Regions from separate parts of the Homo sapiens genome. Here regions 1 and 2 are each linked to region 3. Evidence: fine-mapped expression QTL. A gene starts in region 3. Each other region holds a variant in brackets. All regions are shown on one strand. Distances are between the middles of the regions.

Region 1 (10,265 bases), 21 kb before region 3:
AAAGTGCAAACATGGCTACCTCCAGAGACCTGTTTCCCCCACATCTCGGAGCACCTCCAGGTGTGTGTGTGTGTGTGTGTGTGTGTGTGTATACATACATATGTGCCCAAATACAGTTTCTCTCAGTCTGATCTTCCTTAGTCCCCAAAGTAAGGTAGAGAAAAAAAGAAGGAAGGAGTTACGTGAAAGGATCTGGGATTCAAATTCCAGCATTCTCCTGGAACCCTCTTCCCCTGTCAGGGCTCTGAGTGGATCCCATCTAGAAAATGAGGAAAAGGGTAGGCTCCAAGGTGGTTTCCTGTTAGTAACATTCTGATTCCAGGAATCTACTTTCTCCTGGTGAGGAATTCAGCACGTTATTCTTTGCAGTAGTCTCTGGTGTTTGCCTGGCACATTTACCTTACCCGGGTACTTCCACTTTTATAAGTGCATTTTCCTCCCCATAATCTGGAAGACAGCCAAGGCAGGAATGATGCTCCCCATGGACAGATGTGGGAAAGGCAAACCCAAGAGAGTTGATGTGACCAGTTCAGGGTCACACAGCCAGTCAAAGGCTGAGCCCGGATTAGAAGGTGCGCCTCAAACCCAGGGTTCTTACGGAAAAGGCACTGGATACCTTCTGTCTATGCAACCATTGGTTAACCTTATAGTCTTGCTAAATCTTCACAAAAGAAACGAAACTAAGAAATCAGCCAATCTCATTTTTAAATGAAGAGTGACTGAAGAGAAAAAATATGCACGTTCTGAAGTGTCTGAAACCAGCCTCCTGATTTAAACCTGATTTGTTAGAAACAAAATTTTTTCAGCTGAGAGAGTTTTTACAGCTGAGCTCTCCCAAACTCATAAAAAACTAGGTTTATATGGGAAATCGTGAAAGACTCTTAACTATAATACACAGCATCTAATGTAAGCAGACGTAGACACTATATAAAGCTCCTACAAATGTTATTAAAACAAACAGAAATGCACATTTATCCCCACAAAATAGACAATGGAAAGCATCGGACTTTAGAGGAGTCCTGAAAGGCTTATGTTCACTGAAATGTGAACACACCCCATAACACTGAGACCTCAAAGGTCTTTACCCACCATCCAAGCATGTCCCTCATTTACAGAAGGAGAAACTGAGGCTCACAAAGGAGAGGGACTTGCCCAGCATCTCAGGGAAGTTGTGCCCTTCTCTTCCCTTTGTTTATTTAATACCTTCTACTTTTAGTGCAGGGAACAGAACAATACAAGGGCCAGGAGTCCCTGCACAAGTTACTGAACATTTCCCAATCTCAGTTTTCTTCACAAGTTACTGAACATTTCTCAACCTCAGTTTTCTTATCTACAAAATGAGAGCAATCATTCCCCCAACATCCTTGGGTCTGTGAGGATGGAAAGAGATAAGGCATGCAAAGCACTTAGCGCGTTGCCCATGGTAGAGCTATTTTTATTATTTTATTTAATCCTCATAACAGTCTTGTGAAGCATTGAGGGTTTCTTTTGGTTTGTTTGCTGGCTTTGGAGACTCAGGGCATACTTCCAACAGATGCAGAAGATTTCAGTGACTTTCTCAAGGACACACACCCAGTGAGCAAATTCCTGCTTCAAAGCCCTTATAGTCCACATCATTAAGGTAACACAGGGGGAAGGCAGCCTGTAGCCGTTGAATTTCTGAAACTGTTTCAGGCAGCACTGTACAGTACAACTATCATGCAAGCTATAAGTGCGAGTCACATAGGTGATTAAACATTTTCTAGTAGCCACAATAAAAATGAGAAGAGAAACAGGTGAAATTATTTTAATAATGTATTTTGTTTAACTTAATATATCCAAAATAGAATTTCAACATGAATCCATCTAAAAATTATTAGTAAGATATTTTACATTCTTTTTTTTTCATACTAAGCCTTCAAAACCAGGGGCTTTTTTTTTTTTTTTTTAAGTTGGAGTTTCATTCTTTTTGCCCAGGCTATAGTGCAGTGGTGCCGTCTCGGCTCACTGAAACCTCCGTCTCTCAGGTTCAAGCGATACTCCTGCCTCAGCCTCCCGAGTAGCTGGGATTACAGGTGCTGACCAATATACCTGGCTAACTTTTTGTATTTTTAGTAGAGATGCGGTTTCAGCTTGTCAGCTGGCTGGTCTCGAGCTCAAATGATCCTCCCACCTTAGCCTCCCAAAGTGCTGGGATTACAGGCGAGAGCCACCGTGCCTGGTCCAGGCACATAACTATTAAGTGGCAGGGCTGGGCTGCAGACCCAGATGCATTTGACTCGAAAACCTGCCCTTTCAGCCACTCAGTTCCGTGACTCCCAGAGACAGTAGGGGGACTATAGCTGGGCAGTAAGATGTGGAGTGCCTTTTGGAGTGTCCCACCTAGTTCCAGTTCCAAGTCTACTATGAGTCAGGTGACCTTGGTCCAGTCATCTCCTTGTGCCCCAGTTTTCTAATCTCTAAGATGGGCTAACAATATCTTTCCTCCCCGCAACAGAACTCCTGTCACGCTGAAGTGGGAAAAGATCTTTGAAAGTGTTTTGAAGGCTGGGTGCGGTGGCTCACGCCTGTAATCTCAAGACTTTGGGAAGCCAAGGTGGGTGGATCACCTGAGGTTAGGAGTTCGAGACAAGCCTGACCAGCATGGTGAAACCCCATCTCTACGAAAAATACAAAAATTAGCAGGGCGTGTTGGCACATGCCTGTAATCTCAGCTACTTGGGAGGCTGAGGCAGGAGAATTGCTTGAACCTGGGAGGTGGAGGTTGTAGTGAGTTGAGATAGCGCCACTGCACTCCAGCCTGGGCAACAGAGTGAGACTTTGTCTCAAAAAAAAAAAAAGTGTTTTGAAACAGAAAACATATTAGCACAAGAGGCCTGGCCAAGGTCAACAGGGAGGTCTAGACTGGCCCCCCAGGCCTGTACTCAAAACTAGGTGAGTTGGTGAAATGAGCTGCATGGCAATGGGCAGGTTTTTTAACCTTTCTGAGACCCACAGCTCACTTCTGTAAAAGGGAAGGCAGAGGCCAGGCGCAGTGGCTCACACCTGTAATCTCAGCACTTTGGGAGACCGAGGCAGGCAGATCACAAGGTCAGGAGTTGGAGAACAGCCTGGTTAACATGGGGAAACCCCGTCTCTACTAAAAAAATACAAAAATTAGCCGGGCATGGGGGCGTGCACCTGTAATCCCAGCTACTCGAGAAGCTGAGGCAGGAGAATTGCTTGAACCTGGGAGGTGGAGGTTGCAGTAAGCTGAAATCGCGTCACTGCACTCCAGCCTGGGTGACAGAGCAAGACTCTGTCTCAAAAAAAATTCTCAAAAAAAGAGAGAAAAAAAAAGGGAAGGCAGAGTAGCGTCTAGAAGCGTTTTGAGGACCTGGGAAGCTCTTAGCCTGGCCTGGAGCAGGCCGGTGGTAAACACGAGCTGTTCTTGCTGCTGTTGTGGTTGAGGTTGAGCTGCTGGGCCTGCTTGGGAAGCGACAGAGTGTGGCAGGAAAGGCGAAGACAGCGTGGCCCTTCAGGGCACCCTGAGACCAGGCTCTTGGCTGAGGGTAGAGCGCAGGCTGTCCGACGGTGAGGCGTGGGAGGTGTGGCTGGAAGTGCAAGAACAGCTAGTGTGGCAGGAAAAGCACTAGCCCCAGAAGGCAAGAGAAGGGGGTTCAGTTTGCTGTGTGACCTTCGGTACTTCCTTGCCCCAGCTGGACTCTGTAAAACAAGGAAGGGGGACCAGATCTAAGTCCCTTTCTGCATGGACTCTCTAGGATTTTTACAACGGTGTGAATCGAAGTATTCACCAAATACAGCATCTCTATGAGGGACAGAAAATACTCCTAGGGCCTTCCCCTGTGGCCTGAGGCTGCCACCGATTGAGGGGAGGGCGCCACCTGGTGGCCATACTCCCTCTTCTGCACTCTCAGCGCAGAGAAACCAGACAGGATCCCAGACTCCTCCTTGCAAGGTGAGCCCGGAGCCCCAGGACTCCCTTTCTTTAACTTCCTCTGGCAATTCAGGGGCGTAGAGAAGGGACTCAGCAAGTTCACAAAACCAGGAGTCCTGGGTGTGAGCCTAACTCCTGAGGGACGCTGGGGTTTTGTAACCCAAGATCTCTGAGGCCTTCTTACCTAAATATGCCTTAGGGACAGGGATCTGTGTTTCCTTACTATGTGAAATCTGAAATGCGCCACACTTTTTTTTCCTGTTCCTTTGAATAGAAGCCACTGAACAAACACAGTCCTCTCCTAGTAACTCAGAATATTTCTGCCACTACTACACAGGGCTAATGGAACACAGAGGGCAGTTTCCCCCTGCACTAAATAACCCAGGTTGCTGGGATCCTGAGTTCTTCCAACAGCTTTTACCACTCTTCCATCTTCCCAGCATGGTCAATATTCCACTTCATTCTGTGGTGTAGGTTGCATGGTGCACAGGGGAGTCAGA[C/T]TGACATAGGCTCAAATCCCAGTTCACTGTGAGACCCTGGGTGAGTCACCTGACTTCTCCAAGCTGTAGTTTTCCCATCTGAAAACTAGCAATGATAATAGCTTCTTTGCAGGTCTGTGTGAGGATTAGGACCATATACAAAGACCCTAGCACAGTGTCTACTTCCCAGTCGGTGCTTAACAAATAATAGCTATATTTCTGCAGCTGGGCCATCCTGACCATCTTTTCATATCCAGCTTTGGAAATATTCCTTGATAGAAATACGAATAGCATACATTTGAAAACTATATTAGCCACCAGAGATAGAACACCCTTCGCTGAAGATGAAGGAGCCCCCTTGGAACTGTTTAAATTGACTCAGCCAAGTTCAACTTCATCTAGTTTAGATAAACCCCAGTAGGCAGGCTGCGGTCTTGTGAGTAATTGATTCCCTCAGTCCTCATTCTTTGGGCTTCAGTAAGTTTCATTAGATACAGCTTCACCTTCTGGCAGTTGCTAGTGCGCGTGGCTGAGTCTGAGCTCTGCTGAACCTGTCCCAGCCCAGCTGACTGGATGGCTCCCTTTGAAGCCTGGTCCACTCCTGCATCCCCCATCACTTAGGCAGGAGAGGCTCTGGTTGGGCACAGGTAACCTCCCACTGCTCACTTAACAAAGGCCAATCTTGCTAGTGGCTATGAGCCCTCAGGAAGTCTCTTTTAACTGTTTTAGCTTAATTAAGCTCATTACATTTGCTAACCCTCATTGGCTTCTCTAAGACTTCAAGTGCCCGTTATGCACTGCTCCTTCCTCAGAAGTAGGGTTGACGCAGGGCTCCGAGCTTTCATCACAGATTCTATGATTTTAGTAGTTGAAGGACTACTTCCCACTCCTGTCTGAGTCTTAGCTCCTCTGAAATTCCTGGCTCCTGGAGGACAGAGTCCGTTTCCTTTGGCACCTGGCCCACAGCAGATACTCAAATACTTTTGTGACCATATTTCATCAATGGGTTGTTTTTTTTAATAATAGCAGGTTTGATGACTCCAAAGTTCAAGGTACTCATTCCAGCATGAGGCTTTCTGCTCCTCATTCACTGTCACATCAGCCTGGACTTCCCTTCACTCTCATCTCATCAAACCTGTTTCCTTCAAGGGCCTGCTTAGGTGCTTCCTCTTCCGGGAAGCTCCCCTACTTTTCAGAATGCCTTTTCCTTGGTATTTTCCCCTTACTCTGAATCACATAGATAGAGTGTGGCTACACATGAAGTTAGCAAGTAGATGCTTTGATTTACCTATAAATATGGTCATAGCAGGGTTGGGCATGGTAGCTCACGCCTATAATCCCAGCACTTTGGGAGGACAAGGCTGGCAGATTGCTTGAGCTCAGGAGTTCGAGACCAGCCTGGGTAACAACATGGCAAAACCCCATCTCTACAAAAAATACCAAAAAAATCAGCCAGGCATGGTGGTGGTGCACGCCTGTAGTCCCAGCTACTTGGGGGACTGAGGCAGGAGGATCACTTCAGCCTGGGAGGTTGAGGCCACAGTGAGCCAAGATCGCACCACTGTACTCCAATCACCTGGTGACAAAGTGAGACCCTGTCTCAAAGAAAAAAAATTATATATGGTCATAGTTACAGATATGTGTGTATAAATATACATGTATACTATGTATATAAACATATATCTATACAGATACATATTCCATATAGTTGTATATAGATACTCTGTATACATATGTTTACATATATAGTATTTCTAAGCTGATATGCATATCTTTCTATGTCATTAAACATTATTTTACAATTATGACATATGTATAATGCTTTCAAGACCAGTCTCCTAGTATTTGATATATAGGCTGTTTCCAGTTCTTCACTGTTCTAAACAATGCTCTTGCGAAATATTATCTTACTCAAGTATTAGGCAGCATGACATAGTGGACGCTGGAACCTGTGTGACTCATCCCCACCGTTTCCTGGTGACCTTGGGCAAGCCACTTCACCCTTCTAAACGATTTTTTCATCTATAAAATGGGGATAATAATAATACTCATCTCATAGGGTTATCAAGGCATGTACAGTGCTTACTTACCATTGGGACTGTCACATTGTAAGTGCTCAGTGAAAAAACAGTACCAATTCGGGAGGCGGAAGATGAAGATTTTCTCTGTCTTCTCCACTACCAGTGTGACTTTGTATATCACTGTTTCATAGCGTGACAAAAACTCACAGAAGTGATGGATGACAGCGCTGTACAACACTTTAAGTGCTGCTCAAATTTAAGGTTGTATTATTGTTGTTGCTTTTACTTCTCTTACTACTTTCTATATGTTTCGGGAATATGTAAAGTAAACTATGCAAGCAGGTAGTAAGTGCTTTGAAGGCACTTAAAAATGCTTTGCTATTTTACAGTTACGGTGAAAATGATTTGTGTTCATTATAACCAGTTTAGATGATACCAAGAAAGCACAAAGAAGAGAGTCAAATTTACTCCAAAATCACCAACCAGGACTAACCATGGTTGCCATATCAGTTGTGGTCTTTCTTAACTGGCTACCCTTGTGGTGCCCAGGGCAGAACAGGGCAGGCTTCAGCTGTTTAATAAATGTCTGTTGACCTCAACCAGATCGACTGTTAACAGCAGCATGCTCCAGTTCTCTCCCTCTCAGCCAACCTCTGACAGTTTCATTAACCCCATTAAATCATGCAGGTGCCTTTACACCTCCTGGGCTTGTTAATCTCTGTTCAGCTCTGGTAAGTTAAAACCTGGCTAGAAGGTTGGATGTACCTTGTTAACCTCCATTAAACCCTATTAAATTTCTTAACTAGAGTCCTAGTGACTTCTCAAAATCCCTCATTAAAGTTTAGTAAATCCAGTTGATTGGGACAAGGGTAACTGTTGTAGCTGCGCTGCTTCAGAGCTTGGCATTCTGAGTTCTTGGACGGTGGGGTTGACAGCAGTATCCCTAGAGCGAGGCAAGCCTTGGGGATCCATCCTGGGAGTGCCTTTACCTCTTTGGCTCTCATTGTTACTGGGGCAAGTTCCTCAGCTTTTCTGAGACTGTATTTACATCTCTATAAATTGGAGTTAATAATAGTTCCTACTTTGTATGATTGTAGTGAGATTAAATGAATTAATGCACATAAAACTATTAGCCATTGTCTGGCATGGACTCTGTACTTGATAGCTATTATTATTCCTGAATATAGAAGATCTTTGTAGACAAAAAACTGTTGAGTACACAGAAGACTCAGTCCCAGTACTAAATAAATATAGTGTCCTCCTCTGTGTCAGGTCTTGGGCTGGAATGGTGGGTTATTTTCATTCTGGTTTTCTGCAGACTGAAGATCATCCATTTGAATGACAACAGTGTCAGCCACTCTGTTTGCTCAGACTCTGCCACTTCTGAGCTGTTTGATGCTGAACGTAACATAGTTATAATACTTTCTTGACCAGGGCCTTAGGGGATTGGACTCAGTGGTTCCTAAACCTGGATGTGCAGATAAATTTCTGAAAGGATTTTTTTTTTTTTTGAGATAAGAATCTTGCTCTGTCGCCCAGGCTGGAAGTGCAGTGGTGCAATCTTGGCTTACTGCAACCTCCGCCTCCTGGGTTCAAGCGATTCTCCTGTCTTAGCCTCCCTAGTAGCTGGGATTACAGGCATGTGCCACCATGCCCAGCTAAATGTTTTTGTATGGTAGAGGCAAGGTTTCGCCATGTTGGCCAGGCTGGTCTCGAACTCTTGACCTCGAGTGATCCACCCACCTCGGCCTCCCAAATTGCTGCGATTATAGCATCCGAGAGGATTTTATAAAACGCGCCCAGCATCCGAGAGGATTTTATAAAAACATAGTTTCCTGGGCTTCACTTGAGAAAATTCTCATGAAAGAGAGCTCAAGGGGAACTTTTAACTAGTATTTGAACAGGTGATACTGAAGCTGTTCATCTCTGTGCTGGGATTGGGAAACCTCTGGACCAGATTGGTGCTTCTCAACTTTATTGAGCTTAAGTCTTACCTGGAGAAATTTTAAAAATCATTATTACTGGGACTTAGACCCTGAGCTTTTCATTCTGAGGATCTGGAATGGGGGCCCAGGAATTGGCATTGCAACAGAGTGCTTAGGGGATTCTGATGGGGGTAAGGGGTGGCAAGTGCCACACTTTTTTTCTTTTTGAGATGGAGTCTTGCTCTGTCGCCAGGCTGAGTGCAGTGGCACGATCTTGGTTCACTGCAACCTCCGCCGGGTTCAAGCGATTCTCCTGCCTCAGCCTCCTGAGTAGCTGGGACTACAGGTGCGTGTTACCATGCCCAGCTAATTTTTGTATTTTTAGTAGAGACAGGGTTTCACCATGTTGGCCAGGATGGTCTTGATCTCTTGACCTTGTGATCCGCCCGCCTCGGCCTCCCAAAGTGCTGGGATTAAAACACCGGACCTCAGATGATCTGATATTCGATGTCCTAAAGCTCTATTTTGAAAAGAAAATAAAAGGGTGTTGGGTTCCTCGTGAAACTTCTGTTCTAATAGCATATTAACATGTGGGTTCATCTCCATCTTTCCATTAAATTGATATCTGTGGATCATCAAGGGATGTTTACTGCAGCAGGGGGTCAGCCAGTTTTCAAAGTGTGGGGACAAAGCACCCCTTTGCCATTCAGTGTGTGAGGACAGCAGGCAGGCCCCCATGGTTAGACACAGTATAAAAGAATGGGAGAGGCCGAGTGCGGTGGCTCACGCCTGTAATCCTAGCACTTTGGGAGGCCAAGACGGGTGGATCACGAGGTCAGGAGATCGAGACCATCCTGGCTAACACGGTGAAACCCCGTCTCTACTAAAAATACAAAAAATTAGCAGTGGTGGGCGCCTGTAGTCCCAGCTACTCAGGAGGCTGAGGCAGGAGAATGGCATGAACCCGGGAGGCGGAGCTTGCAGTGAGCCGAGACTGCGCCACTGCACTCCAGCCTAGGTGAAAAAGTGAGACTCCGTCTCAAAAAAAAAAAAAAAAAAGAAAAAAAAGAATGGGAGGATGGCAGAGGAGGGGAAGCAACTACTTATGCTAAGAAACACAGTATGAAAACTGGAACTTCCTTTGCTTTCTAAAGCAACTCAGGGACCCTGTAAATGATGGTGTCCTTCAGCAACAATCCATCACTAATTCTGTGAGCTCCTTGGTGAGAGCCAGGACTTCCTGTCCTCTCAAATATCTCATGAAAAGCCACCCTCCACACTCCTTACAGGGGAGTGGAATGGGAGAGGAGAAGGATGTGGGAAGGAAAGGATCTGCACTTTTAAAATTTCTGTAAGGCTTAAAATTTTAGAGCTAAGATGTATTACTTCTATGTAACTAATATGATAAAGACAAATATTTATTGCACTTCTCCCTTTTCATTCTGCTGAGGACAAAGCTGTGGTAAAGTGGCACTAGAGACAGGCTTGAAGTGGGAGACCTGAACTTGAGGCTTGCCTTTCTCTTCTCTAGCACTGTGAGGACAGGCGAGAGGCGTCATCCGGTAGCCTCAGGGACCTCCACCAGGAACGTGCAGTCATACTGCCCTGGCTTCTCAAGCTGTAGTATCCCTAGGGAATTTGCTACTATGCAGATTCTGATTCAGTAGACGGCCAGCAGGAGGGGCTGGGAGATTCTGCATTTCCAACAAGTGCCCAGATGATGGACCAACTTTAAATAGCAAGACTCTACTGTAGGTGAAGAAACTCCAGGTCACACGCTGTTAAAAATGTCTTTGAGACATTTAAACATTGGGATGTTTACATGAAGATCTGAATTTCCAGCTTCTCCAGTCAAATTGCAAGACCCGGTCACACAGGGCTGGTGTGCCCATAAGGCTACAGTAGCGGGGAGCTGAGTAGTGGC
Region 2 (10,265 bases), 53 kb before region 3:
TGGGAGAAGGGTAGCTTTCACTTCCTTTTTTTTGAGATGGAGTCTCACTCAGTTGCCTGGGCTGGAGGGCAGTGGCGCCATGTCGGCTCACTGCAAACTCCACCTCCTGGGTTCAAACAATTTTCCTGCATCAGCCTCCCAAGTGGCTGGGATCACAGGCACATGCCACCACGCCTGGCTAATTTTTGTATTTTTAGTACAGATAGGGTTTTGCCGTATTGGCCAGCCTGGTTGGCTTTCACTTTCACACGGCAACCACGCCAACCAGCACCTCCAACCCAGAGTTGCAAACTGAGACCACATTCAGCTACATATGGGTTTAGTTTGGCCAAATCAGCATTAAAAAATGTGTTTTAAGTTAAAACATTTGAAAACTGGGAGTTTGATGTAATAATCTAGATTCCTGGCTTTTCCTGAAAACTCACAGGATTTGGCAGCTCTGAGTCCACTTTTCCAAATGGCCACAACTGGCTGTGGCTAGTACTGCCTTCCAGCTTGACCTGTTCCAGTCAATTACTGCACCTGCCTGGCCTCTGCAGGCCTGCCCCTAACAATGCGGAAGCAGGCCCTTGTGGGGAATCTCTTGTGGGCCACCTGGAGGAAAGACAGAGAGCACGGGACAGTCCTTGCCATGGGCTTCCCCTGGCTATGTCATTGGCTGAAATATGTTCCAAGCCATCCCTGTGTGACAGGAAGTAACACAACAATAATGAATAACAACTACAATGTATTGAGTACTTACCAGATGCTGGGCACCAAGCTAAGCAATTTACTTTCAAGACCTCCTTTAATCCTTTCAACAATCCTGTTTAGGCACTATTGTCTCCATTGAACTGATTAAGAAACTGAGGCTCAGAGAACTTAGGTAACTTGCCCAGTTGACACCACTAGCAAGTGATGGAGCTTGAGTGCCAACGAAACTCTAAAGCCCAGGTACTTAGCCTTCCAGGCTCACTGCCTCAGGAGCAATGGCGATCTGCTCATGGGCATATTAACCTAACAAAGAGTGGGGAGTAGAGAGCTGTGGGCCACAGCAGCTTGCTCTTCCCACTTGGAGATAGCACATTGGAGTTGTTAAGAGCACAGTTTTGGTATTAGATAGACCTGAGCTCAGAGCCCAACTCCTAGTAATACCATTTACTAGCTGTGCTACCTAAAGCAAGTGACTAAACCTCTCTAAGGCTCAGCTTCCTCTTCTGAGAAATGGAAGGGATAATAACACCTGTTGCTTTTGGAGGGCAATTGGAGCGTTGAGATATTGCATTTAAATCCTATATTTGTACAGTTCTTTGGTGGCAGCCATCAGAAACAGTTTGGCTACAAGGTCAGCAAAAAGGGATATTGTCAGAGAGCAAGATGTGGAATACACAGAGAATCCCAAGAAAAACTGAAAGAACCAGGGATGCTCCAGGAATCAAGATAACAGGAATAAGGAATAATCTTGTTGGGAGCTACCACCAGAACAGTAAGGTTTCAACCTCTTTTTCCTCCTATCTTTGATGCAGTTTCCTGGGAGATGGGCCTCTTTTGGGTCACATTCCCACCTGGGTTATGTCAGTTTCTCTGGAAGCAGAGCCTGAGACAAGGATTCTCATGCAATATTCTGTTGAGAGTGCTGTCAGGGGAAGAGGAGGTAGCAGAGCAGTACTGGGCAAAGGAAGAAGAAGCTGGTCAAGATGTGGTTTTAGGGTGAGTCTAGTCTCTCAGCCTGATGCTGGGGGAGTATGAATTGCACCGGTGAATTTGTCCCACCTAGAGGCAAGGGGGCTGGGTTTACTCCACATTAGTTAGTCATTGACCCCAGGCCACTCCCAGGGGAAGCGGTGTAACCTTTCAGGTAGCCCCAGGTAAATCACCTCAGGCAATTCTCCAAGGAAGGGGGCAGCTGTGAGCCATTAGCATCCAACACTTGCAGCATAAAGGGTGTCTGGGCAGGCCACCAAAGCCATCTGCTACACTACCCATTACTGAGTGTCCCAGCCAGCCACACAAAATGAAGGAGAGGTAATCATCTAAAAAGAAATCAGGGTGCTTTGCAGAAGAGGAAGAGATGGATACAGAGAGCTGGAAAAAAAAGCAAATATTCACTACACATGATTAGCCCTGAGCCTGCCCCGTGTAGAGCAAACATTAAATTAATGGTGGCTATTATTATAAGTGTAACAACATATTAAAATTGAAATGTCCAGCTGAGAGGTCAACATAGAAGAGATGCCACATTCCAGAGTAAAGAACAAGACCATGGTGCAAAATTTACAAAGCTGACAAAGATTGGCTGCTCTCAACCCCTTATGGTATTGTGTGTGGGTTTTAAAGGGTTGGAAGTAGTTGGGGATGAGGGAGAAATATTTGTTTCTGTTTTGTTTTGTTTTGTTTTGTTTTGAGACAGAGTCTCACTCTATCACCCAGGCTGTAGTGCAGTGGCGCCACCTCGGCTCACCACAACCTCTGCCTCCCAGGTTCAAGCGATTCTTCTGCGACAGTCTCCTGAGTGGCTGGGATTACAGGCACATGCCACCATGCCTGGCTAATTTTTTTTTTCTTTTGTATTTTTAGTAGAGACAGGGTTTCACCATGTTGGTCAGGCTGGTCTTGAACTCCTGACCTCAGGTGATCTGCCCACCTCGGCCTCCCAGTGCTGGGATTACAAGCATGAGCCACTGTGCCCAGCCAAGGGAGAAATATCTGAAGTAGCAGTTGATGTGTTGTGAGTTACACCTTCTCTCAAAAATGAGCAATGAAGAATATGTCCCCCTTCATCTCAAGAAAGGAGAACAGTGCTTTAAAGTGACCACTCAGAGCTCTGCTATGGTTCAAATGTACGTGTCCATCCAAAATTCGTATGTTGGAACTGAAGCCCCAAGGTGATGGTCTTATGAGGTGGGGCCTTTAGGAGGTGATTAGTATGAGATCAGTGCCTTATAAAAAGTCTGGAGGGAACTAGCTAGTAGCTTTTTGCCCATCTGCCTTCCACCAAGTGAGGACACAGTATTTGTCCCCTCTGGAGGAAGCAGCAACAAGATGCCACCTTAGAAGCAGAGACCAGGCCACCACCAGACATTGAACCTGCTGTTACCTTGATCTTGGACTTCCAGCCTCCAGAACCGTGACAAAGAAATGTCTGTTCTTTATAAATTACCCAGTCTCAGGTATTTTGTTATAGCAGCAGGAATGGCCTAAGACAAGCTCGAGGTGTGTCTCCTGTGTTTTGGTGGACACAACAGGTTGCTATTTGACCCTGCCTGTTCCTTTTAGAGGGCAGCCTTTGTGCTGGTCAACTGCTGTGACAATGGCGCAGAGGTGAAGTGGCTGCACTGGTGCTCACCCCCAGAGCTTACTAGAGCCAGATCTTTGGATTTTTTGTGAACTCATGTGGGACAGCTAGAGAGGGTGCCAGCAGGGGGTTATCTTAGGGTTTGTCCACAAGGGACTCCTGGAGGGGCAAGCAGACAGCCAAAAGGAGCTGGAGGTCTTGCTAGACAGATGCCTAGGGGCTAAGGAAGGAGAAAACCACTAGCCAGCATAGAAATATATTCACCTTGCAAAAGGACTGCAGGCGAGCAGCTTCTCTAACCCGTCTCTCACTCCAGAGCTCCGAAGCTAGAGAATCAGAGATCAAGGCTGTCAGATTCTTCAGGGAAGGATGCATGCAGGGGAAGAAGCCTAGTGTGCCCCTCCCTGACAGGCTTCATAACTTACCTGCAAAAAGTGCAAGCTGGGGAGTCAAGGGCTAGCAGGGAGAAGGCTCAACTTTAAGTCAAGTTGGAAGGTTTGATAATTTGGGCAGAGCGATGAACTGAGACTATAGTTAGTGACTGGCAGTGGTTGTAGGACTTTTTATTACCTAAAGTGACCAGGAAATTGGTGACTCTGTCCACATTTGCATACATGGGCAGGATAACTAGACTCATAGGAAGTGCAAAAAGAGAAAAAAGGAGGCAAAATTCAAGTTTCTTTCACACTGTAGCCTATATGTTCTTTGTGTTCAAATAATGGCTATTTGAGGAAAGACATTTGGAACCACATTTTAAATATATGACCTTGGCAGATTGGGGCCTAAGTGAGTGCTAGGTCTGAAGGTCTCTTAGGAAAACTAGGCCCGGCCATTTGGGATTTGGTGAGCCTGAGCCCAAGGTCACACTGAGTTATGAGACTTAGACTCCAGCTTGGGCCCAACAGTCCTAAATCTGCATAATGCCACCTCCAAAGGGTTTGTGCATTTGACACATGTCACACTCCCCAGGTGAGAGAAGGGGAGGTGTCTGCATAGGAAAATGATGTATTCAAGGTCTCCAGGTTGGATCGAAGGGGTTTTTTGGCTCCCTGGGCTCCTGAACCTGGATTCTCTCATTCTGGCTGTGACATGATGGCTCCCAGTGTGGTTGCTCTGATGTAATAGGCTGTGAGGGAGGCCTGTGGGTTTCTCACAGCTGGGGCAGGGTGCTGGGGATGACACACTAGGCTTCCCAAGGATAGTCACAAAGTGTGTATAAATGAAGTGAGAATCTCATTCTGGAACCAGTGAACTATCCAGAGCTGGAAGTTTCCTTAGAGTTGTCTAGTCTCTTCACCACATTTTACAGACAGGGAAACTGTGGTGCACGTAGGGCCTGGCACACACAGGGACTCAGTCTAGGCTCAGGCATGAGTAGATTTTAGCCCTGGCCCTTCCTCTGGAAGTGCATTTAGGAGATGCCTTTGGGGCAGAGGGAAATGTTCCCATCAAGGAACCAAGGAAGGACAGTTTAGGAGGGCACAGGGCAGGGTTAAGGATAGGCATTGTTCTCTTTGGCTTTCACAGTAGGGTGTGTGCAGGGCAGATAAGGCCCTCAGGAAGGTGTCTGAGGAGCTGTGATGAAGAAGGTTGGCTCCCATGCTGAGGAGTCCCACGTTACTCTGCAGGCAAAGGAAAGTCCTCAGAAGGGGCAGGGTGACAGAGAGATGTAATAATAACAGCAAGTGTTTGATGAGTGTTTATACTATGCTAGGCACTGTTTTAAGCCCTTTGTTTTATTTTTTTTTATTTTTAGTTTTAGAGAGATGGTCTTGCTTTGTCACCAGGCTGGGATTGCAGTGTTCTGATCATGGCTCACTGCAACCTTGACCTCCTGAGCTCAAGCAATCCTCGCACCTCAGCCTCCCTAGTAGCTGGGACTATAGACGTGCACCACTATGTCTGGCTAATTTTTAAATTTTTTGTAGACTCAGGGTCTTGCTATGTTGCCCAGGCTGGTCTCAAAACTCCTGATCTTGAGCTATCCTTCCACCTTGGCCTCCCAAAGTGCTGGGATTACAGGCGTGAGCCACTGTGCCCGGCCCTATAAACACTTTAATGTGTATTATTTCAATTAATCTTCACTCAAGCCCGTGAAGTGGGTTCTGATCTAAAACACCCATTTAACAGATGACTGAGGCAGAGAGAGAGGTTAAATCATTTGCCTAAAGTTGCCCGTTGGTTGGAGTCAGGATTCCAGTCCCCAAAGTCTGCCTCAAGAGCCCACCACACTAAAGCTCTGCCCCACCACCTGTGAATGTTGTAGGAAGAGCACCCTGGTGGTCAAAGGTGCACCATCACAGATGGAGATCTGGGGCAGGAAGAATGGCTAGGAGCCTGTGGAGACTCCTCCGATAACCAAGGCAGAACTCTGAGGGCCACAGAGTTTGCCAGGATTTTCTGGATC[G/A]GAAAAAATGACACAATCAAAGAATCCGCTCATTTAGCGCCTCATGTTTATAGGTGAGGACATCGACGCTCAGAAAAGCAAGACGAATTGTGCCCAGGGACAAGCTGCTTGTCCAGGCTTGAATCCTGATGACAGGACTCCAGGGATGGGAATTGATTTTAAAATATTAATATGTTAGGCTGGGGGTGGTGGTTCACTCCTGTAATTCTAGCACTTTGGGAAGCCAAGGTGGGTGGATCACTTGAGCTCGGGAGTTTGAGACCAGCTAGGGCAACATGATGAAACCTTACCTCTACTAAAAATACAAAAAAATTAGTTAGGTATGGTGGTGCATGCCTGTAGCCCCAGCTATTCAGGAGGCTGAGGTGGGAGGATCACCTGAGCCTGGAAGGTGGAGGTTGCAGTGAGCTGAGATCGCACCACCGCACTCCAGCCTGGGTGACAGAGTGAAACCCAGTATCAAAAATATATATATATATATATGTTAACAATACTTTCTGGGGACAATGTGATTTTTTTTTTTTTAAAAAAAAAAGCCTTTAAGCCAGTGCAGTGTTGTGTATCTACAATGCTAGCTACTTGTGGGGGCTGAGGCAGGAGGATTGCTTGAGCCCAAGAGTTCAAGTCTGGCCTGGGCAACATAACAAGACCCTCTCTCTTTGAAAAAAAAAATAAAAAAGTGTTTAAAATGAACATATCTTTTGGTACTATTAGGAATTTGCCCTAAAGAATATATATGCAAAGACATGTAATATGATGTTATTAATAATAATTTAATAAAAATTCCCAGCAATAAGGGGATTAGTCAAGGGAATTATGATGTATCTACTTGAAAAATACTATACAAACTTTAGAAAAGGAGATTATGTTATAGGTTAGGAGGTCTTAACCTGTGATACAGCAATGGGTTTCAGGAGACAGAACCTCCTAAAATTGTGAAAGGTGGATTTGTACGGAAGTGGATCTATAGCTGACTTAAGATTTTCAAAGGGATATGTGACCAAAATAGGCTAAAAACTACTATTAGAGAAGAATATTGAAAAAACCTTATATTTAAAAACGTACATGAAAGAGCATCAACCATTACCAATTCATGGTCAATCTTGTTTATCTCTACTCCCACCCAATTCCTCCTCCTGTATTATTTTGAAGGGAATCCCAGATATCATTTTACTTAGAAACAGCTCAGGATATATCTCTAAAGAGGCTCTTTTTTTTTTTTGTCATTGAGAACTATTTTAATGCGGCTATGAAAAGGGAAAAAAGTGTCCAGCTCTTAATTTCTTAGATATTGAAGAGGACGTTGTCATTTTGTTTATCAAACATAAGGAAAATTGTTCACCATTTTGAAGCTCACCCTAGACTATGAAAATTATATTCACTGCAGAGCAATTACTTCTGTCATTACCTGAAGTTATCAGTATGTATCTTCCTTGTCATAGGATGCATCTCTCAAAAAGCCTCCACTCCTTTTCCTCACATCTGTAATCATCATGAACCTTTTAGTTCACTTCTAGATCCATATTTTGTGTTTTCTAAAGCTTCTGACATTATCTTACTTTCTGACCCTCTTATCCATATTTTTAAAAACAGGAACATTGTTGAGATGCACCCTTTTTGGTTAATAGATACATTCCTAAAGAGCTTTTAATTGCTTACGCTTATCTTTTAGGAATAACCATCACTTTAACTTTTCCTTAGATAATATATTTTGAATTGTTAGAATAATTTTGTTGCATTTCTCTGAGATCTAGTCTGTTTCTCCTCATTATTTAAAAATGCTAAAACTTATATCTCACGTTTTCTCTAACACTGACTTAATACCTAACAGGGTAGAAGCAACATTCATTCTTCTGATTATATATATGAATTCAAGTATTAGCTTTCTTGTAATAACAACCTTTTATTACTATTCTAGAGACTGCAATACCGACAGTGTAGGCCAACCACCAGCTTGATATCAAAGTATAACATTATAAAGTTAGTAGGGTAAAACATCTGTAGGGAAAACCCAGTGAAGAACCAGAGTATTTGGTTCTCATGTCTGTTTAATGAAGGGACTAGATTTTGTAATCTATCCTTTTAGAAATTATATAACTGACTAATATGGTTTAATTAACATTAGTAACATCTCATGACCACTGACTGCTGAAAGTTCTGAAAAGGGTTTTGTTTTGTTAAAATGCACATTTGAGGGAGATTCACTCCCCTGACTTATGAGTAAAACAAAGACTTCACTGGGTGACCTAAATGAGACTTAGTGGAGAAAAGTTGCCATGTTTGGACAGAGATAAATGATATTCATGTTGTATGGTTTTAATATACTAGTACATTCTAGAATGTAAAAGGATTAATTTAAACTCTACAATTTACATCAATATTTTGAATATGTAAATTTTTTATGGGAGACTGTATTACATTTTGCTGAAATTAGAACAAAGTAAAGAGAAAGGGCAAGAAAGCAACATTGCTGATCTCTCTAGTATGAAAGATTTGGAGGGAGTGTGGCAATATATATATAAATGAAAAAATGTAATTGTGTTCATCATATTTAAAAATAGAATATGTGACTGGGCACGGTGGCTCACGCCTGTAATCCCAGCTCTTTGGGAGGCCAAGGCGGGTGGATCGCCTGAGGTCAGGAGTTCGAGACCAGCCTGACCAACATGGAGACACCCCCTCTTTACTAAAAATACAAAATTAGCCAGGCGTGTTGGCACATGCCTGTAATCCCAGCTATGCGGGAGGTTGAGGCAGGAGAATAGCTTGAACCTGGGAGGCGGAGGCTGTGATAAGCTGAGATAGTGCCACTGCACTCCAGCCTGGGCTCCGTCTCAAAAAAAAGAATATACTAAAGAACTGTGATATAAAAGTACTCTGTTAATGTAAAAAATAAAGCAAGTGTAATTCTTTTAGAATATAAAATTTGAGCATTACCTGCTGAGCAGTTCCCAAATTAAGTACAAGGAATGTATATTCATTTTCTGCCATATACTGTATGTAACAGGGAATACCTTGCTAAAATGATAAATACTTAGGATATAGTGGTAATGGCTTTCACATTTTTATAACATAACTCACTACACGCCATTCTTGTAGCTGCCCACTCTTAGAAACTTTGTTGCCTAATATTGAGGAAGCGGCTTTAATTTCTTCCATTTGGCAGTGTATGTCTATAGTGGAGCATGAAATTGGCTATGCATTGCTATTGCCTGCTGAAGTTTCTCTTCCTTGGCTCTTCTACAGTGGCAAATTGTTCTCTTTTCCATGAAGCTACTGAGAAAATCATTTATTTCCATTTTTCCCTCCACAAAGTCTTCCACAATATTATCAGGTTCTTCCCCAGCTTCATGTGCAGCTACTTTCAATGTTGCCTGTAGGGCACTTGCACTACAGCTCTCACTAAGTTCACACTGCCTTTGCATCTTCTTTTTGAAAGCAGACTTCATTTGTTTAAGTAATTCATACTTATCTAAAACGGTTTGCCTTTTGGCTCCCAAGCTGGGCTCCAAAAGGATATTTTTTTCTTGCTAGTTCCTCAATACTTTTTACTAAGTCATCTTTGTCAGTAATAATTTGTTTTAGTTGAGACAAAGTCAGAAACTGTTCTAGTAATACCTCCTCTTGTTCATTCATATCTGTGAGTCGTGACACGCTTAGTTCTGAGAGTTCTGGAAATGCATCAGAGACATCTGGCATCTTGTAACCAAAACCATTTTGGCTTGTCAATATTGAAGCATCTGTTGTGGAAATGGGTAATGGCAGATTTGAAAGGACACCAAATGAAGGAGCGACGGGCTTGGCTGTGGTATGACTTGTTGTTGAAGAAGAAACAGTATTAGCAACAGATAAAGAAGTGATAACTCCTCTTTGTTTCTTCTGGGGGATATGGAGGAAGAAATGGAAAACATTGAGAAGCATAAAGCGGCATCCCACTTGGGTTACTGTATAGGTAAGGAAATGCTGTTGCAGTAGGAGCTAAAACTGGAGGATTCTTCCAAAACTCATCCAACAGACTCTGAATAATTTTTCCAAGATCTGGGTGCATTGTAAAATTGTTTGCTAATGGAGAAGTAACATACACTCCTTGTTTATCCATTAAGTGATGTCGTATTGGTGGAAAAACACTGATCACTGGTTTTTCCTGAGGAAATTGTGGAGGAAGCAATATATGTTAATTGTCAGGTTGTTTATGGTGAATGGCAATCTGTATTCCACATCTTTCTGTATTTTAGCTATACTGGAGTGTGAGTTCCGGAGGGACTCGATCAGGCGTTGCTTCTGCTGCTGGAGGCTGGTAAGGCCACCGGGAACCCGGCTGCGGAGGAGGAGGCGCTCTTTGTCAGGTCCTCGGGCGGAGGCTCTGGAAGGCTCTGGCCTGCTTCTCCCAGCGGCTCGGCCCAGCGGTTCTCCTGCGACAGAGGACCGGGCTGGGACGTCCGTGGCCCAAGCGCTGGGGACCGCGTCTTCTCTAAGCCAGCCCTGCCTGTGCTTCCCGGGTTCTGGCGGACATGTTATGAATGGCGGGCAGCTGGAGAGGGGAACTTGCTGCCCAGAACAGGCAGTCCCACCTTCACCGCCCAG
Region 3 (10,265 bases):
AAGGGACTGTTGCAACGGTATTTGGGACACTCTATTTTTACAATTACAATAGCTACTATTGTAGGATAATAACTCTTTGAAAAACTTTGTTTCTATGTGTCAATTTATAATTCTTGCATTATCTCACATCTGATCCACAAAGAAAAGTGGAAAAAGATGTGGAAGTTCTTACAAGGTAGAACCACATACAAGAAGGTGGATACTACAGATTTTCTAATACAGGCTGGAGGCACACTGGTAAGTGAAGGTGGCAGCAACAGCTAAGACATGAAGAATCCTCCAAGGCTGGCTGGAGGAACCACTGAAAAACTTTACAGAAACTGAATGCCCAGCAAATGACTTGGGGTTGTTGATACTGAAACAGCTGTTGCACAAATGTTCTGCAGAGACTTCTGAATTTGAGTTTATTCCTTAAATCCTTAAAGATAAAAGTAAGCTGGCAGGAAATCCGCATCAATTAATTCAGACCTTTTCATGGAGAAAATAATGAAAACTGTTTATTTATTTATTCAGATGAATGATCACTTTCATGTGGCTGGATTAGTGAGTCATAAGTACTTTTAAGTTTATACTGTGATGGTGTCTTGCAGACAGGAGGTACTCGAAAAATGTTGATGTACCAATATAGGAAGTCTCCTATATCTAAAAGTGGCTTAAGGCTAATGAAAGCCACCACTTAACATGGTTACAAACTGGGATAGCTTTGTCAGATTCAACTCTGTCAAAGGACTTTCAAACACAGCACATGCCACTGTCCCAAAGAATCCCACCTAGCTGATGTATATACTACTGGACATGCTTTTCTCCAGGAAGAAAGCACAACAAAGCACACTCTGCATCCCTGAGAGGAAGCTAGCCCTCCATGTTAGCTAGACTGGCGAGTCCACTCAGATCAACTGCTCCTCAAGTTCACAGTAACAAACTTCATAGGAGAACAGGGAGAATAGGTGGCTTCCTAAAGCTTTGGCTGGGAGATTTCAGATCAGGACAATAGAATAACGGAATCCTAGCTGTAAGAGAACTTAGCAATCACTAGTGCAATCCCATTGACCCCAATCCGTTTTCTAAATGGGTAAAATGAAGCCATCCAGAGTGAGGAAATGACCTGGCCAAGGTCACCCAGGCCTTCTGCCCCCCCAGTACATGTCTTTTCCTACTCCAGCATTTTCCTTTATACTATTCTCAACTTCCACTTTTCTCCAGGAAAAAAAAAGCAGAAATATGTCAACTGGAGGTATATTAGTATTTTAACAGATCACAGAACACTGCCAAAGTCTATATAAAATGAGTTAAACAGCCTGAATTGAATTTCTGGTGTTGTTATTTAAAAAGGTTCTCTGCTAGACTCTCTTACAAGATAAATAATCATTTTCTCCTTAACCATTTTCAAGTACATACTGGTTTTCAGAAATTTCAGAGCTCAGTGGCCTTTGGGAGTGGGGTTGGGGCAGGAGGGTGGTAGCAAAGGCTCTAGTTTTTTTTTTTCCTTCACTTTCTGCAATAGCTAAAAATTCTTGTAACATACCAGTTACCTGGAATTGAATTCCTGCCCAAGCCTGTGAGAAAGAAATAGAATCCCTTTCAGAAATAATGACTCCACAACACCACCTTAAAACAAATTTTGAGTGATTCCACCTGGAAACCTTACTACCTCAGAAGTATTACATTTTGGGAACACTAATGCTAGGCTCAGGCTGCCCTTCTTCTAGACAGTGTGTGTGAAATGATCAGCATAGCTCAACACAGGTTTTCCAGTACAGTCAATGGGTAAATAAAAGGAGTCCCAGTTGCAGCAGCAAAATCATTCAGATGGGAAGGCATCCAGTGATCTAAAAGGACTGGAAGATTCTTTTAAGGACTGGAAATTATTATTATAAGCTGCTCAAGTAAAGCAGCTTCTAACAACCTACACGGAAGGTAGGCAGTGTTTCTAAGTGGATGAATTCATTGCCATAAGCATTTCACCTCAACGTGTGACCTAAGGAGGGATCACCTTGGTGTCTAGACCCTTGTTTGTTCTCAGATATTTCCATTCATGCATTCATTGATAGAGATTTGTAGTAAGAAAGCCATTAACTCTCTCCCAACCACTTAAAAATAGCACCTGTCCATGCAAGAGCTGCAACTGTATTATAATGATTAACTTAAAAATGGGGGTAGGAGGGAAGAGTCTGAAGAAAGGACAGGGGCTGGGCGCAGTGGCTCACGCCTGTAATCCCAGAACTTTGGGAGGCCTAGGCGGGTGGATCATTTGAGGTCAGGAGTTCAAGACCAGCCTGTCCAACATGGCGAAACCCTATCTCCATTAAAAATACAAAAATCAGCCAGGCATGGCGGCAAACGCCTGTAATCCCAGCTATTCAGGAGGCTGAGGCAGGAGAATCGCTTCAACCCGGGAGGCGGAGGTTGCAGTGAGTCGAGATCTTGCCACTGCACTCCAGCCTGGGTGACAGAGTGAGACTCCGTCTCAAAAAAAAAAAAAAAAAAAAAAAAGAAAAAGAAAAAAAAAAGAAAAGAAAAAGGACAGGGGAGATTTTTTATTTATTAGAGACTTAATGAAGACTTATGTATAGGGCTTGGAAGTAAATTAGATAATATCTTTAAGAAATTAACCAGCCTCTTAGGTGCTGTGTGTACCTGACACCCTCACTTCCTATCTCTGGGCCTGTTTCAACCCTAAAATCAGAGGGGAAACGTGCACTCCCTTTCAGTTTAACAAGCAGTCTCTGATTTCCTCCAACTGTGGAGAAATTCTGATTCTAGAAGAGAATGGATGTTAACCACCTAAGCTCTTAGCTAGTCTACCTGAATATTAAATATCCCCTTAACTCATTTCCAATTCCTAATCATGAAGCAATCACTTAAGGCTTGTAGCAACAGATGTCAAACTAAAAAGTTCTTAATTGGTTGACAATAGGCACAGCTTCAGAATTGTTAACTAGAAGTGGTGAAGTCACACGGGAGGAGTTTCCTATAATAAGCCACAAAGAGCAGGGCAATCCGATTTAAATTTAAATATCCACCCCCTTATTTCAAAAGAAACTACCACTAAGAAAATTGATTTCTTTTCTTCCCCCCTCCAGTCACATCGACTGCAAGAGCCATTTCTCAAGACCTGGCCTTGGCCTTATTTCTGCCACATCCTAGAAAAACCCATTCCCACAGCTGCCTGCGAAGCAGCTAGCTCGGTGACCCTCTGCTGATACCGAGGATGCGGGAGCCAGGGAAGTAACTGCCACCTTTCTCTGTCTGAAGGAATAACAGGGTTCCTAGAAGGAGAGAGAAGTTGGAAAAGAGCCGGGTATCTTCATCACTCCCCGCTCCGATTCTTGCTCCTTCAAGGGCCAACAAAACTAACCCACCTCTCCCTGCTCTAAAGTCTAAACCAATAAAACAAGTTGGAAACTGCTGTCCAATCTTTCCAGGCAGCAGGAGTCCTGAAGCCCCCGCCCCCATCCTCCCGGATCTGGGTAGAATCACAGTCAGAGCATGTCAGCGCTGGAGCGGCCTTTGAAATGCGGAGTCCAACTCAGTTCTGCAGAGCCGGGGCGGCGAGGCCCACGGCGGGGAGTGCCCGGGGAGTCCCGACTGGAGCCCAGGGCAGCGGACGGAGAGCTGGGGGCGCCGGGGCCCAGACGCGAGCGGGGGCGGACTCACGCTCTTGTCGATGTCCAGCTTGAGTTTCTTCTGCGAGATGCTCTTCTGGACCCTCTTGCTGAAGGAGGCGTTGCCCGCGGGCCGGACGCAGCGCTCGCCGTCCTCGATGAGGCAGCAGCTCTGGCCGTAGCCCGGGGCGGCGGCAGCTGGGGCGGCGGGGGGCCCTTCGCGGCTGTCCTCCTCCGTGCTGAAGCCGTTCATCTCCCCGCCCCGGGCCGGTCCCTCTGGGGGAGGGTCCCCGGTAGGCCACTCCGCGGCCGCGCTTGCCGCGGGGCAGGTCGCTGAGACCCCCGCAGCCGAGGGTCCCAGAGTCCGTCTCCAGCCCGGGCGCTGCCCTGCCCCGCGTCCGAGAGGCCCGGCTCCCTCGGCCCCCGGCCCTCCGCCTCCGGAAGCCCCCTTCCTCCCGGCTCGAGGCCCCGGGGTCGGCTCCCGCGGCTCGCAGGGCCCCGCCGGGGGTCACCCGGAGGAGCCTTCTGCCGGGGGCCCAGAACCGTAACCCTGCAGCGGGGGTGTCCGGGAGGGCGTCCCAGGAAACAGCCGCTCCCCAAGGACTCCGGGCCTGGGTTGCCAGGGGGTTTCGAAGGCCCCTGCCGGCTCCCGCCTTCTTTCGGCAGCGGGGCAAACTCGCTGCCGGGCAGCTCCCCCGGGGTGGCGCGGCCTCCTCGCGCGGGGCCCGGCCTCGAACCCGCGGCACCCGGGCCCCGCGGCTCGTCCGGCCCACTCCACCCCTGCAGCCACTCGGCTGCGCCCCGAGTCCCGCGGCAGCCCCTGGGCCGCCCGGCCGCCGCCCGCCGAACGCTCCGCACCACAACAGTTCGCTCCCCCCGCCCTTCGCGGGACAGCGGAAGTCCCGCCTTCACGCGACCATTGGTCTCATTTGCTCTCTGGGCGGGGCTGCCGCCGCCGCTGGCGCGTCCCATTGGGCGTCGCCGCCGCCAGTCTCCGGCGCCAGGCTACTTCCTGGACTCTGCTGGGATGGGTTCAAAGTAGAGAAAGTGGAAGAGGAAAGAGTTACCCCAGCGAGAACCGGGAACCGGGCTGCAGACTCTCCGGCCCGGGGGAGGGATGGTGAGCAGGGGCCTGGCTGGACCGAGGGCCAGACTCCAGGAACAGAGGAACACATTCGGGGACAGACAGTAGAGACGCGGACGGGGACGCTGAGGGACAGACTTGGAGGAGGGGCATATGAGGGGACCTAAAGAGGATAGAGGTGCTATCAGGAGAGGGGCGGACTAATAAAATGAAAGGGCCAGGGCCAGAGGACTCGCGGATCCGTGGGAGGAAGGGTGGGTGAAATAGGACGGAAAGCCAGTCATGGCGGGAAAGACAGAGGGACAACCCCATACAGATACGTGGAAAGACATGCGGAGGAGGTGATGGGGGGATCTTGCAAGGCAGTCGCAATATTGGGGGTAGCCGATACCTTCCAGAGTGTGGAGAGTGGGACTGGCTTGGACGGCGCGGAAAGAAAAGGAGAGGGGGAAAGGAGACCCCGAGGGGTTTGGGCGACCCCTCCACTGGGAAGAATGGGAAGTCCGAATGAGGTCTGGAGGGTGGACTAGGTGAGCCGCGGGCAAGAGAAAGGGCTTCAGGGGAGATGAAGTGAAGGCTGGGAGTGGGGCCCAGGGGCCAATCTCGGAATCTAGATGGGGAAGGGCTGCGGTGTCTTGGGCTCTCCCTGGAGCTCCAAGCTGTAGTTCTATTGCTTTGAGTCCCCGGGTCTACCGGCGAAGCGACTGCGCCCTGCCAAGACCCTGCGCTTGGTTTCGGCGCCCAGGGCACCACCTCCCCTCCAGGAGGGGCCGTAGGATATGCTCTGGTCCAGCACTTCAGTCATGCCACTCTCCAACTGCGCAGCATGGGGACTGATGAGGTCCGAAAGGCGATGGGACCAGCCCAGGGTCGTGTAATTATGTAGGGCTGGGCAGCGTTTTATGGGCAGGGAAGAGGGGAGGCTGTGTTAGGTGATAGGTAAGCAAGTGTTAGTACTAGAGGGCATAGAAGGAGCTTCGGGTTTGTGTCCTGTTGTAAAAGGGAAAGCTACCAGTTTCCATGTTTAGAAGCAGGTGGCTGGTGATCTTAAGTTTTGCTCAGTGGCCATAAATGCATTTGTAGCATCTGAACTGGTAATTTCACACGTGGGACAGCCATCGTCGGAAATAGGCCTATCAGAGATAATATGAAGTACAGTGATGTTCATTATGGAATTATTTATAATAGGAAAAATAAAATAGAACCTCAGAGTTCCAAAAGGGAAGTGGTTAAGTAAACTACCTAAAATCTTCAGAAAGAGATTGTGCAGTTAGCATTTGAGGTAGTTTCAACATCAATGTAAACATTTTCTATAGAGAATAATTCACCATTAATTCTTAAATAAAGAGCTGATGAGGAGTTGGAGAAATGCTTTTTTTATGATAAGTAAAAAAATTCAGGATATGAAATTGCATGGAGGATACGATGTCTGTACATCTATGTTTAAAGAAAAAAGAAAACTATTGGTATAAAAAATGCACCAAAGTACTAACAGTGATTATTTCTGGGTAGCAGGAATATGGCTGATATTTTTCTCCTTTTGTTTAACCTTTGCATTTTCTTTAATAAGCATTATTTTTGTTTTTACAGTAGAAAAAATAGAATAAAAATTAATGGAAAAAAGGCACAGATTAATAGGAGTCTTCCCTCAGAGTTCATATATTCTGTTCAAAAGTAAATTGTTGTTGAACTCATTATGTATACCAAGTATAGGGTTGGCTATAGGAGGAGGATGAAACATAACCCTTGCCCTAAAAGAATATCTCCTATCTGGGGTGTTCAGACATATATGTAGAAAACACTTGGGTATCTGTACCAGGCACTGTGTGATGTTGGGTCCAAAGTCAGTTGGTATGGATGAAACCTCCATGTTCCCCATATTTTTCTAAACAGCATTTGTATTCAATGCTAGGCTATTGCGGTACACAACTTCTTCTGCACCAACTTGCCCTGGTCTAAGGGGATCTAGGACCTTTTCTTAGGTGCTCTGTCTCAGTCCTTGAGGTAGTGGCTACTTATATCTGCTATTCTTGTATTATTTAGCATTCTTTTTTCTTTTTACTAGGCAGTTCCTTATAACTGTAGGGGACTACAGTCCCCTATTATAATTAATACATGTTTATATTATTATTTTCCTGTTCAAATTACTGTAAGGTTACTCTTTCCTGATTACACCCAGCCTGATACGCCCAGCCAGCCTCTGTGTGTGTGTGTGTGTGTGGTGGTGGTGGTGGGGGAGTTCATGCTTGTAACTGTTCTTTTTTTTTCTTTTTTCTTTTTTCTTTTGAGACAGAGTTTCACTCTGGTTGCCCAGGCTGGAGTGCAATGGCGCGATCTCGGCTCACCGCAACCTCTGCCTCCCGGATTCAAGCGATTCTCCTGCTTCAGCCTCCCGAGTAGCTGGGATTACAGGCATGTACCACTGCTCCCGGCTAATCTTGTATTTTTAGTAGAGATGGGGTTTCTCCATGTTGGTCCGGCTGGTCTCGGACTCCCAACCTCAGGTGATCTGCCCGCCTCGGCCTCCCAAAGTGCTGGGATTACGGGTGTGAGCCACCGCTCCCAGCCATTCTTTATGTATAATTTTGTAGTCTTTATTCAAGGCATACTTTATCATAATCTTTCCCCATATTGCTATGTAGTTTTCACAGTTGCCATTTTTTATGTAGTACAGTGCAGTTTCTGTAGTACAGTACACTGTGGTGCTAAAGACAGTTGGCTTTGCTGTCAGAACTGGGTTCAGATCTGGACTCCACCCATGACTTGTTATAACATGTTAGCAATTATTTCACTTCTTGAGTCTGATGAAATAGGTGGTGACAAATTCTTAACACAGTGCCTAGAACATCATAAGTGGTTAATAAATGTCAGCTATCATGATTCCTACCGTAGTTACATTTGCCCCCCCAGAAGTTGGATATCTTTTTTGTGTGGTTCTGTATAATTATTTTTGAACATAAAACTTTTTATTATTTAGGATTATTATTTTTTCTGAGTGCCAGAGATGGAATTGTGGTCAAAGACTACAAAGTTTTCCAAGGTCTAAGGGCCAGGCTCACTGACCCTTTTTTTCTTTCCTGTCTTTTCTGCCCCTGCCCTCCCCACCTTCATTCCTTCCATCCAGTCAGGCCCCAGTTGAGAAGTTATCCCCCAACACGCCTTAAAGAATCAGAGTTGGATACCTTGGCCAAGCAGTCACAGTCCTACAAAAGCTCTTTGCTCTCCTCTTTCTCTCCTCTTTTCCCTTTTTGGGGAATGTGGCATATGGCTCTGGGAGTGATTTCCAATGACTGCCCTTCTTTGGGAACAGGTGGACACTTAGGTGTCCAGTGACTGGGTTTCTAATCCTTGAGTGGCCCCTGATTGTCTAATAGTGAATACTTGCTGGGTTAAGCCTGTGGCTCAAACTGTACTGGTCAGTTTCTCTCCAGCAAATCTGCTGGTTGGAACTGACAGGTGGTTGGTGGGAGTGGTTAGAGCAGAGGCACTAATGGTGGGTCCTGCCTCCTGTGTTCCCCAGGGCCTGGTAGTTGAGCTTGCCCTTGGGTTCTGTAAGGTACTCATAGATATGTTGGCATGAACCAAAAGTATCTGAGACAGGTCTCAATTTAGAAGGTTTATATTGCCAAGGCTAAGGACGTGCACGTGACACAGCCTCAGGAGGTCCTGACTACATGTGCCCAAGGTGGTTGGGATACAGCTTGCTTTTATACATTTTAGGGAGACATGAGACATCAGTCAATATGTACAAGATGTACATTGGTTCCATCTGGAAAGGCAGGACAACTTGATGCTGGGGCTTCCAGGTCATAGATAGATAAGAGACAAATGGTTGCATTCTTTTGAGTCTTTGCTCAGCGTTTCACTGAATATACAATTTACATGTGGGGAAGGGGTGAGGTGGGTGGTAGAGGAATAGTCATTTATGCCTTTGTCTCAGTGGATCTGCATTTTTACATAAACAACAGGGCAGAAGAAGCAATCAGATATTCATTTGTCTCAGGTGAGCAGAGGGATGACTTTGAGTTCTGTCCTTTGTCCCACACCTATGAAGATAAGCTATCCATTTACATTGCCAGGGTGAAATTCAACAGAACTGTTTTAGGGTAAAGATCTTGATGCCCACAAGGAATTTCCTTGTGGGCAAATTGTGAGGGAGGTCTGTAGCTTTTTTATCTTTGTAGCTATCTAACTTAGGAATAAAATAAGAGGTAGGTTTGCCTGATGCAGTTTCCAGCTTGACTCTTCCCTTTGCCTTAGTGATTTTGGTGTCCCGAGATTCATTTTCCTTTCACATTGTTCTGAGACTGGAAGTTCTGCAAGGACAGGGAACTGTCTCTATGGCTCATCATAGTTTCCAGTGCCCAGGCACTTGATTAATATTTGTTGAATGGATGGATAGATGGATGATGGATGACTTGGCCTCTGGAATCAAGAGGCAGTACAGCATAATGGTTGGTATAAATCTAGATGTAGTCAGCTTATGCTGGAATCCTGGCTCTGCCACTGACTAGCCTGGGAACCTTGGGAAAATTACATGGCCTTAGTCTGCCATGGTTTCCTCATCTGTAAAATGGGGATGATAGTAACCTCTCGGGATTGTTGTGAAGACTGTCTGAGTTATTAGATATAAACCAACTATTAGATATAAAAGTGCCTTGCACATATTAGGTACTCAATAAATATTAGATACTATTATTGGCTTAATTAGTCATAATTAGGTTTAGCAAGTAACAGAAAACCCAAAAATAAGCTTACATTTTTCTCTCACCTTCAGGAATCCTAGAGGTGATCAGATTGTTTTCCTCAGCATCAGAGACCGAGGCTTCTCTTGTTGCTTTGCCATGTTTGGCTTCCATTCCCAAGGTCGCGTCACTAAGCAAGGTGGCTGCTGGGACTCCCATCTACTGAGGCATTCTAGCCAGGAGGAAGGGGGAAAGGCAGAGGAAGGGCTCACCCTTGCTCTTTAAGGATAGTTCCCAGAAGTTGTAGGTGAGCCTCCCACTTGTACCTCTTTGGCCAGAATTTCGCCATACCTAACGGGGGAGGGGAACATTGGGAAATGTAGCCCTTATTCCTGGTGGCTGTATGCTCAGGTGAAAACAGAGGGCTCTGCTACACGTGGAGATGGGTGGAATGTATATGGAGCCCAACCAGCTGCTCTGCTATACCTCTTTTTAGAATTTCCCCATCTCTTAAATTCTGGGAGTGTGTCTTGGTTAATTTTGGTTCTGTTTCTCTGGAGAACACTGACTAATCTGGGCTGCAAAGACCTGTAGTTTTTTGATCCAGGGACCACTGCAGCCTCAGCATTTTGCCATTTCTCAAGTTTCTGAATTTTTTTTTTTTTTTTTGAGACGGAGTCTCACTCCGTTGCCAAGGCTGGAATGGGGTGGCGCAGTCTTGGCTCACTGCAACCTCCATTTCCTGGGTTCAAACGATTCTCCTGCCACAGCCTTCTGAGTAGCTGGGATTACAGGCACCCGCCACCACGCCTGGCTAATTTTTGTATTTTTAGTAGAGATGGGTTTCACCATGTTGTCCAGGCTGGTCTCGAACTCCTGGCCTTAAGTGAT

The links. PIP is the estimated chance that this variant, and not a neighbour inherited with it, causes the effect.
Region 1: its variant is fine-mapped to the expression of SAP30L in whole blood (INTERVAL, PIP above 0.99). The same link has a PIP of 0.9 or more in atrial appendage and esophagus muscle.
Region 2: its variant is fine-mapped to the expression of SAP30L in whole blood (INTERVAL, PIP 0.95).

Annotation. Positions count from the first base shown.
Region 1 is chr5:154,461,460-154,471,724 of GRCh38, reverse strand. No RefSeq gene overlaps it. Among named protein-coding and RNA genes, the nearest start is that of HAND1, 12 kb to the left of the region's middle. The variant C/T (reference allele first, on the strand shown) is at 4,417.
Region 2 is chr5:154,493,340-154,503,604 of GRCh38, reverse strand. It overlaps the pseudogene LOC100128833 and the pseudogene LOC100271907. Among named protein-coding and RNA genes, the nearest start is that of HAND1, 20 kb to the right of the region's middle. RefSeq lists an enhancer at 77-156. The variant G/A (reference allele first, on the strand shown) is at 5,682.
Region 3 is chr5:154,440,198-154,450,462 of GRCh38, reverse strand. It overlaps SAP30L (SAP30 like), which reads right to left and starts at 4,466. Exons shown (of 4, transcript NM_024632.6): 1 at 3,658-4,466. The coding sequence starts at 3,858. SAP30L-AS1 (SAP30L and GALNT10 antisense RNA 1) reads left to right here and starts at 4,641. Exons shown (of 3, transcript NR_037897.1): 1 at 4,641-4,725; 2 at 6,983-7,101. RefSeq lists silencers at 3,823-3,932, 4,063-4,592 and enhancers at 4,169-4,669, 4,723-4,842.